Homo sapiens: one gene and its partner. The protein of the gene in region 1 interacts with the protein of each later gene in a pairwise test. Each region holds a gene or a part of one and is shown on either strand. Other genes may lie near its edges.

Region 1 (3,183 bases):
TTCCTGAAGGACGCGCCAGGGGAGTTCCTGCTCCGAGTCTTCTCTACCGGGCGAGTCTCCCTTAGGTGAGAGGAACCGCGCAGTGCTGCTGGCTCTCCGAGGCCACAGGCCCTTCCAAGGCAGGATTTGGGCACTTTCCCTCTGTGGTTGGCAGGTGTCCATGTGGGAACTGAGGCCACCGGGAACCTGCTGCCAGCGCCCTCCCATGTTTGTCTTCTTGGCAGCGCCATCAGGGCAGTGGCCAAGAACACCACCCCCGGGGCAGCCCTGCCTGCGGGGGAGTGGGGGACCGTGCAGCTACGGGGTTCTTGGAGAGTCGGCCAGACGGCGGGGGGCAGCAGGAACTTTGCCTCATACCCCACCAACCCCTGCTTCCCCTTCTCGGTCCCCGAGGGCCCTGGCCCCCGCTGCGTCCGCATCACTCTGCATCAGCACTGCCGGCCCAGTGACACCGAGTTCCACCCCATCGGCTTCCATATCTTCCAGGCAAGCTCCTTGCCCCAGGGAGGGAGGGGGAGCAGAAGGGGCCCTCAGAGAATTTGCATCTTGGCCTCCATTGTCCCAACAGAGGGCTCTGGGCTCAGTCACTTGGGCTCCCCCTGCCCTTCGAGGCGCTGCCTAGAACCCGCACAGGGCCCTCTCCCATCTCCAACCTCTCAGAGGCAAGGCCGAAGATGGCCTCTGGAAGGGCCGGGGGCCTGGGAGGTGGGCAGGGCTGATCCAGGCAGGGCAGGTTTCCAGAGGAGGTGGTGAGTGGGGAGGAAGGGAGAAGTTTGGAGAGGACAGGAGGCCGAGGTTGAGACCAGCGGGGGTGGGTCGAGCCCTGGCTTGGGAACGCAGGGGGCTGATGGACTCAGGAGTGAGAGGAGGGGAGGCCCAGGCTGGCTGGCCACAGCAGCCCCTCGGGTGTGAGGAAGTCCACAGTCACTGAGCTCAGCCAGCAGCCCCTTGTCCACTTACCCTGACTCAGAATGACTGTGTCCCAAGGTTCATTCTCTGCAGACATGTGTCCCCTGGAATGCAGGGGCCCTGACGAGGAAGGCACTGCAACCCTCGGTTCACAGTGGGCTGCCTGGGGACCCTTGGACCCTCGCTGTTTGCCCTGGGCCACCGGCTCAGGTCCCCTAGAGCTCTGAGGAAAACACATGCCAGGGCCAGTGGGAGCCCTTGGGGCGGGCTGGGCAGTCACAGGTGTTAAAGCCCCTGATGATGTGACAGGCCTCCAGGCGGGGGCCCCACTGCCGGCACCTTCTGGCAAGGGTGGCCAGGCCTTGGTGAGGAGGCGAGTCCAGTGTCCAGGCCTGGCAGCCCCTCCTCAGAGAAGGGGCTGTATGTGACTCAAGAGGGCCAAGGGCATCCGAGCAGATGGCCCTGGGCTGGGCTCCCTACCCCAAGGCTGGCCCCCTCAGTCTGAGCCTGCGCTTTCCTCAGGTCCCAGAGGGTGGAAGGAGCCAGGACGCACCCCCACTGCTGCTGCAGGAGCCGCTGCTGAGCTGCGTGCCACATCGCTACGCCCAGGAGGTGAGCCGGCTCTGCCTCCTGCCTGCGGGCACCTACAAGGTTGTGCCCTCCACCTACCTGCCGGACACAGAGGGGGCCTTCACAGTGACCATCGCAACCAGGATTGACAGGTGGGGCTCTGGGACTTGGGGGCGGCCAGCTGGAGGCTGGGGTGCTGGAGTCTTAGTGCTCGCCTGTCCCCCCACGTCTCCTGCCTGCCCCTCACCCTCAAGCCCCTATCTGTCCTGGCAGACCAGGGCTGTCCTGCCTACCTGGGGACCCTTCCTTGCTGGTCTGAGCCTGGAAGGAGAGTCTAGTGGGAGGTGGGCCAGGAGCACACAGCCACTTGTGTGACAAGTGCAGTCTGGGAGCGCTGATCTGGTGTCTCTCCACAGGCCATCCATTCACAGCCAGGAGATGCTGGGCCAGTTCCTCCAAGAGGTGTGTATGCAGCCCCGCCAGCCCGGCTCACCTGCCTGGGGCTGCCTGGTGGCCTAGGGTCTACCTGCAACCTCAGGCAGGTGGTTTCTGCCTGGGACGTGAGGTGCCCTTGACTCTTCCTGTGAGAGCCCCGGGCGGTGCCTTGAAGGGCAGGGGGAGCTGAGGCTGCGTCCCATTCCCTGGCTGCACTCGGGGTGGGGTGTGAGAAGGGGCGAGTGCCACCGCTGCCCGGGCCCCCCATCTGTCTTTGCAGGTCTCCATCATGGCAGTGATGAAAACCTAACAGGGTGGCCCCCTGTGCCAGCTCAGGTGACTGGAGCCCGAGGGCCTGACAGGTTCCCAGCAGCTGGGCCGGCCAGCCTTGCACTGTGGGGGCTGGTCCTGAGTCTTGGCCTGCCTCCCAGCCCTGCCAGGAGGCTGCGGCCTAGGGGTCCACGGGAAGCCTCCGTCAGGAGAGACGCAGCCCTGGGGGCCAGCTGGTGCTGCAAGGAAGGGTGGGAAGCTTGCTGGCTTCTGTTGCGCCACTGAGACGGCAGAGACCCCAGGATCCCAGAGCTTCCCAGGATCCCTCCCAGATCCTCTGCTGACTCCATATGGAGGCCTCACACCCAGAGGGTAGGGCAGCAGATCTTCTTTATAACTATTTATTGTTCGAATCACTTTTAGGATGTAACTTTATAAATAAACATGAGCGCTGATGATTTGCAGATCAGTCTTGCTCCAGGTAGTTCCAGGCTGTGCCTGCTCTTGCCAAGCAGGCTGTGGGGAGGGCTGGGTGCCTGCCGAGATGGTGAGGATGAGGATGGCCTCTGGAGGGGCTGGGGGCCTGGGAGGTGGGCAGAGCCAACCCAGGCAGGGCAGGTTTCAGGGGGAGATGGTGAGTGGGGAGGAGGGGAGAAGTTTGGAGGGGCGGGCCCAGGGCATGCCCCAGGCCAGGGGGCTGAGGTTGAGGCTGGCCGGGGCAGGTCAAGCCCTGGTCTTGGGGGACACAGACTGATAGACTGGGGAGTGAGGGGTGGGGAGAGCCAGCGAAGGCACTGCCAAGGCTGTGGCGAAGAAGGACATCTCGGAAACGGGTGTTAGAACCGGAGTTGCGCAGAGGGAGGAACCCCAGGTTCACATGGACTGGGAGCCTTGGATCTGGACGGCTCCTCTGCCTCCAGCCAGGGTTCACCTGCGCAGTGTCCTAGGATTGTTTATTTCCCCAGGCCTCTCTCCCTCGTCCCTCACACCAAATGCTGT
Region 2 (3,812 bases), on another chromosome or scaffold:
GCTAATATATATTTTTTAATTAAAAAAAATTTTTAAAGATTGTCTTTATATATGATTTTGTGACTCTATTTTTTTTTCTTTTGTTTTGAGACAAGGTCTTGCTCTGTCACCCAGGCTGGAGAGCAGTGGCGTGATCCTAGCTTATTGCAGTCTCAAACTCTTGGGCTCAAGTGATCCTCCTACCTTAGCCTCCAGAGCAGCCAGGACCACAGGCATCTGCCATAACGCCCGGCTAATTTTTGTACCATTTGTAGAGACATGGTCTGAATTTGTTTCCCAGACTGGTCTCAAACTCTTGGGCTCAAGTGATCTGCCCACGTCGGCCTCCCAAAGTGCTGGGATTACAGACGTGATCCAACATGCCTGGGCAAGAATACCTTTCGTTGAGCAAATTGTTGAGAGGTAGAATGAGGAAAACTTTTGGCTAAAAGGGACCCCAAGATATCCCAAGTGGCATATTTATAGATGTGAAAGTGATTCCACAGCTGGGCATGTCAGATCAAAATTCTCCATGGATCAGGAATGCCTCCTTTTCCTTTTCTGTCACCACCGGTCACATTTGGCTACTTAATTTCTGGGCTCCAGTGCAGCATGGAAACGCGAGGCCCTTTGTTCAAAAAGTGTTCGAATTTCTTTTCTTCCTTCTTTTTTTTTTTTTTTTTTTTTTTTTGAGACGGAGTCTCGCTCAGTCACCCAGGCTGGAGTGCAGTGACACGATCTCGGCTCACTGCAGCCTCCATCTCCCAGGTTCACAGTGTGGAGAGGCAGGGCACGGTGGCTCATGCCTGTAATCCCAGCACTTTGAGAGGCTGAGGCAGGAGGATCACTTGAGCCCAGGAGTTTATGACCATCCTGGGCAGCTTAGCAAGACCCTGTCTCTAAGTAAAATTAAAAAGTTATAGCCAGGTATGGTGACACACACCTGTAGTCCCACCTACTCCAGAGGCTGAGACAGGAGGATTGTTTGAGTCTACGAGTTTCAGGCTGTGGCGAGCTATGATCATGCCACTGTACTCCAGCCTGGGCAATAGAGTGAGACCCTGTTTCTCTCTTTCTTTCTCCCTTTCCCTCTTTTTTAAAAAAAAGACATTGTGGAGAGTGTGTGTGTGAGTTTAGGGTGAGGGGGACTAATTGCTGTTCTAAGAGTTTCGTAGTTGGGGGGGTGATAAGGAGGGGATGGGGGGTGATGAGGAGAGGGATGGTTGGTGGGTGGGCCTCTTATCCCAGGAGATAAGCCAAATTGAAATGAAGGCGCAAAACAAGGGAAACAAAATGGGACTAACCGTGGTGGCATTTCCTGGCCTTGGGGCCTGAGGGAGGGAAGACTGTGGAATTTATTTAGAAAACTTCCAAACCAGCGGTTATGAGTCTTTTTTACTATTCTGGCCTGTTGCTCTTGTTCTTTTCAGAATTATAAATGTGTTTGTGTGGCTGTTTGATCTCAAAGCAATGCTCAGAAGATGCAGTGTCTCGAAATCCCAGAAGATAAGATGTTACCACATGAAAGATGGTCTCAATAAAGGGGGAGAGGCGGTGGCCGAGGCCTTAATTTCCAAAACGAGAAACTGGGGCCCACCCATCTTTTAAAGGTCGTCAAAAGAAAGCTCCCATCCTCCCATCCCCCACACCTGTGTGTTGACTCTGTAAAGATGCAGTTTCCTCACTTTGGGAGGAGAGGCCGTGGTTTTTGCAGGAATTGCGCCGCTGCCGAATTCAGCCATTGCCTCTTGGAGGTTTAGGATGCCCCAGGCCTTGTTTTCCCTCAAAGCATTCCATTGGCAATCACGACCAACCATGCTCCTTGAGGATTTCTGTACACACTGGCTTTTCCTGGTCTTGTAAGTTTTTATACGAGTCAGTTTTCACCATAAATCATGGAGGTGGGTCTGGGGCTGTGACGGCGAGTCCTCGACGTTCAACCCGGATGTAGGTCACTCCAGACCCCCAGGGTGCCCTGTCGTTCCCTTTGCTGGAAGTTTCAACAAAGCCAGAAGCAGATGTCAGGGGTTCCCGGGGTCATCTGGGAGGGATGTCCGCTGAGTTTAGGGGCAAGCTGGGACTGCTGCATTTCTGTTCCTGTACGTCAGAGGAAACTAGCAACACGCCTCAAACCACTTTACACCATGTCTCAGTGTTAAACCAGAGCCTGTTTTCACAAACACCTCCTGCGATCTCATTACAGCCCCACCCTGCCCTCCTGCTTCTGTGGCCTTCTCTACTTTGCTTCTTGCTCCTCTTAAAGACCTTCTGTCTCATCTGTCTTTTCTGGGGTTGGGCCTTTCCCCTTCTCTATAACCTTCTGTGACTCCCACGGCTCACAGCTTTGCTGTATATTAGGAGCAGAAAGCAAGCTTCATTACATCATTTAAAATTTTTTAGTAGCTACATTTTTTTTTTTTTTGAGATGGAATCTCGCTCTGTGGCCCAGGCTGGAGTGCAGTGGTGTGATCTCAGCTCGCTGCAACCTCTGCCTCCCAGGTTAAGTGCTGGGATTACAGGCGCACGCCACCAGACCTGGCTAATTTCTGTATTTTTAGTAGAGATGGGGTTTCACCATGTTGGCCAGGCTGGTCTCGAACTCCTTACCTCAAATGATCCACCCATCTCAGCCTCCCAAAGTGCTGGGATTACAGGCATGAGCCACCGTGCCTGGCCGCCACATTTAATGTATTTATTTATTGATTTTTGAGACAGAGTCTCACTCTGTTGCCCAGGCTAGAGTGCAATGGCGCAATCTCAGCTCCCTGCAACCTCCACCTCCCGTGTTCAAGTGATTATCCTGCCTCAGCCTCCTGAGTAGCTGGGATTACAGGCGCCCAATATCACACCTGGCTAATTTTTGTATTTTTAGTAGAGACGGGGTTTCACCATGTTGGCCAGGCTGGTCTCAAACTCCTGACCTCAGGCGATCCGTCTGCCTTGGCCTCCCAAAGTACTGGGATTATAGTCGTGAGCCACTGTGTCTGGCCTCTTTTTTATTTATTTTGTTTTTATTTATTTATTTTTGAGACAGTCTCGCCCAGGCTGGAGTGCAGTGGCGCAGTCACGGCTCACTTGAACTCCTGGGTTTAAGTGATTCTCCCACCTCAGCCTCCCAAGTAGCTGGGACCACAGGGGTGCACCACCATGTCTGGCTAATTTTTAATTTTTTTGTAGAGACAGTGTCTCCCTATGTTGCTCAGGCTGATCTAGAATGCCTGGGCTCAAGCCATCCTCCTGCCTCAGCCTCCCAAAGTGCTGGGATGACAGGTGTAAGCCACCATGCCCGGCCTAGTAGCCACATTTTGAAAGGTACAAAGAAACAGGTGAAATTAACAATACATTTTACTTAACTTCATATATCTAAGCTGTGGTCATTTTAATATATCAATATAAGAAATTATTAATGAGATATTTTACATTCATTTTTTCCTACTAAGTTTTGAAACCCAGGGTGTATTTTTACATTGACATTCTATCCCAAATTGAATGCTAAATTTTTATCAAAAAACATTTTGATCTATATTCAGTGTTCATCAAATTTACCATTGAAAAAATGATTCATATATTCAAGTTGTCCCAGACTTACATAAAAGCTTCCCAATAATTGAATTGTTAGTTTTCACATTTAAATTGCTTAAACTTAAATACAAGTAAAAATTCATTGGCAAGTAAAAAGATGAAAAAGAAGCTAAAACAAAAAAAATTCAGTTCTTCACTCACACTAGCTCATTTCTTTTTTTCTTTTAGACATAGAGTGTCGCTCTGTCACCCAGGCTAGAGTGCAGTGGCATGATCATGGCTCACTGTAGCCTCCACCTGCTAGGCTCAAG

What was found.
Region 2: the proteins of CAPN10 (region 1) and LITAF interact in a two-hybrid assay, tested with the Homo sapiens proteins (one large-scale study listed by IntAct).

Annotation. Positions count from the first base shown.
Region 1 is NC_000002.12:240,596,457-240,599,639, forward strand, and holds the end of CAPN10 (calpain-10), read left to right. Parts: coding exon 1-65; intron 66-224; coding exon 225-486; intron 487-1,431; coding exon 1,432-1,631; intron 1,632-1,895; coding exon 1,896-1,941; intron 1,942-2,194; coding exon 2,195-2,224; 3' UTR 2,225-2,648; downstream 2,649-3,183.
Region 2 is NC_000016.10:11,559,172-11,562,983, reverse strand, and holds part of LITAF (lipopolysaccharide-induced tumor necrosis factor-alpha factor), read left to right. Parts: intron 1-1,817; exon of another isoform or gene 1,818-1,838; intron 1,839-3,812.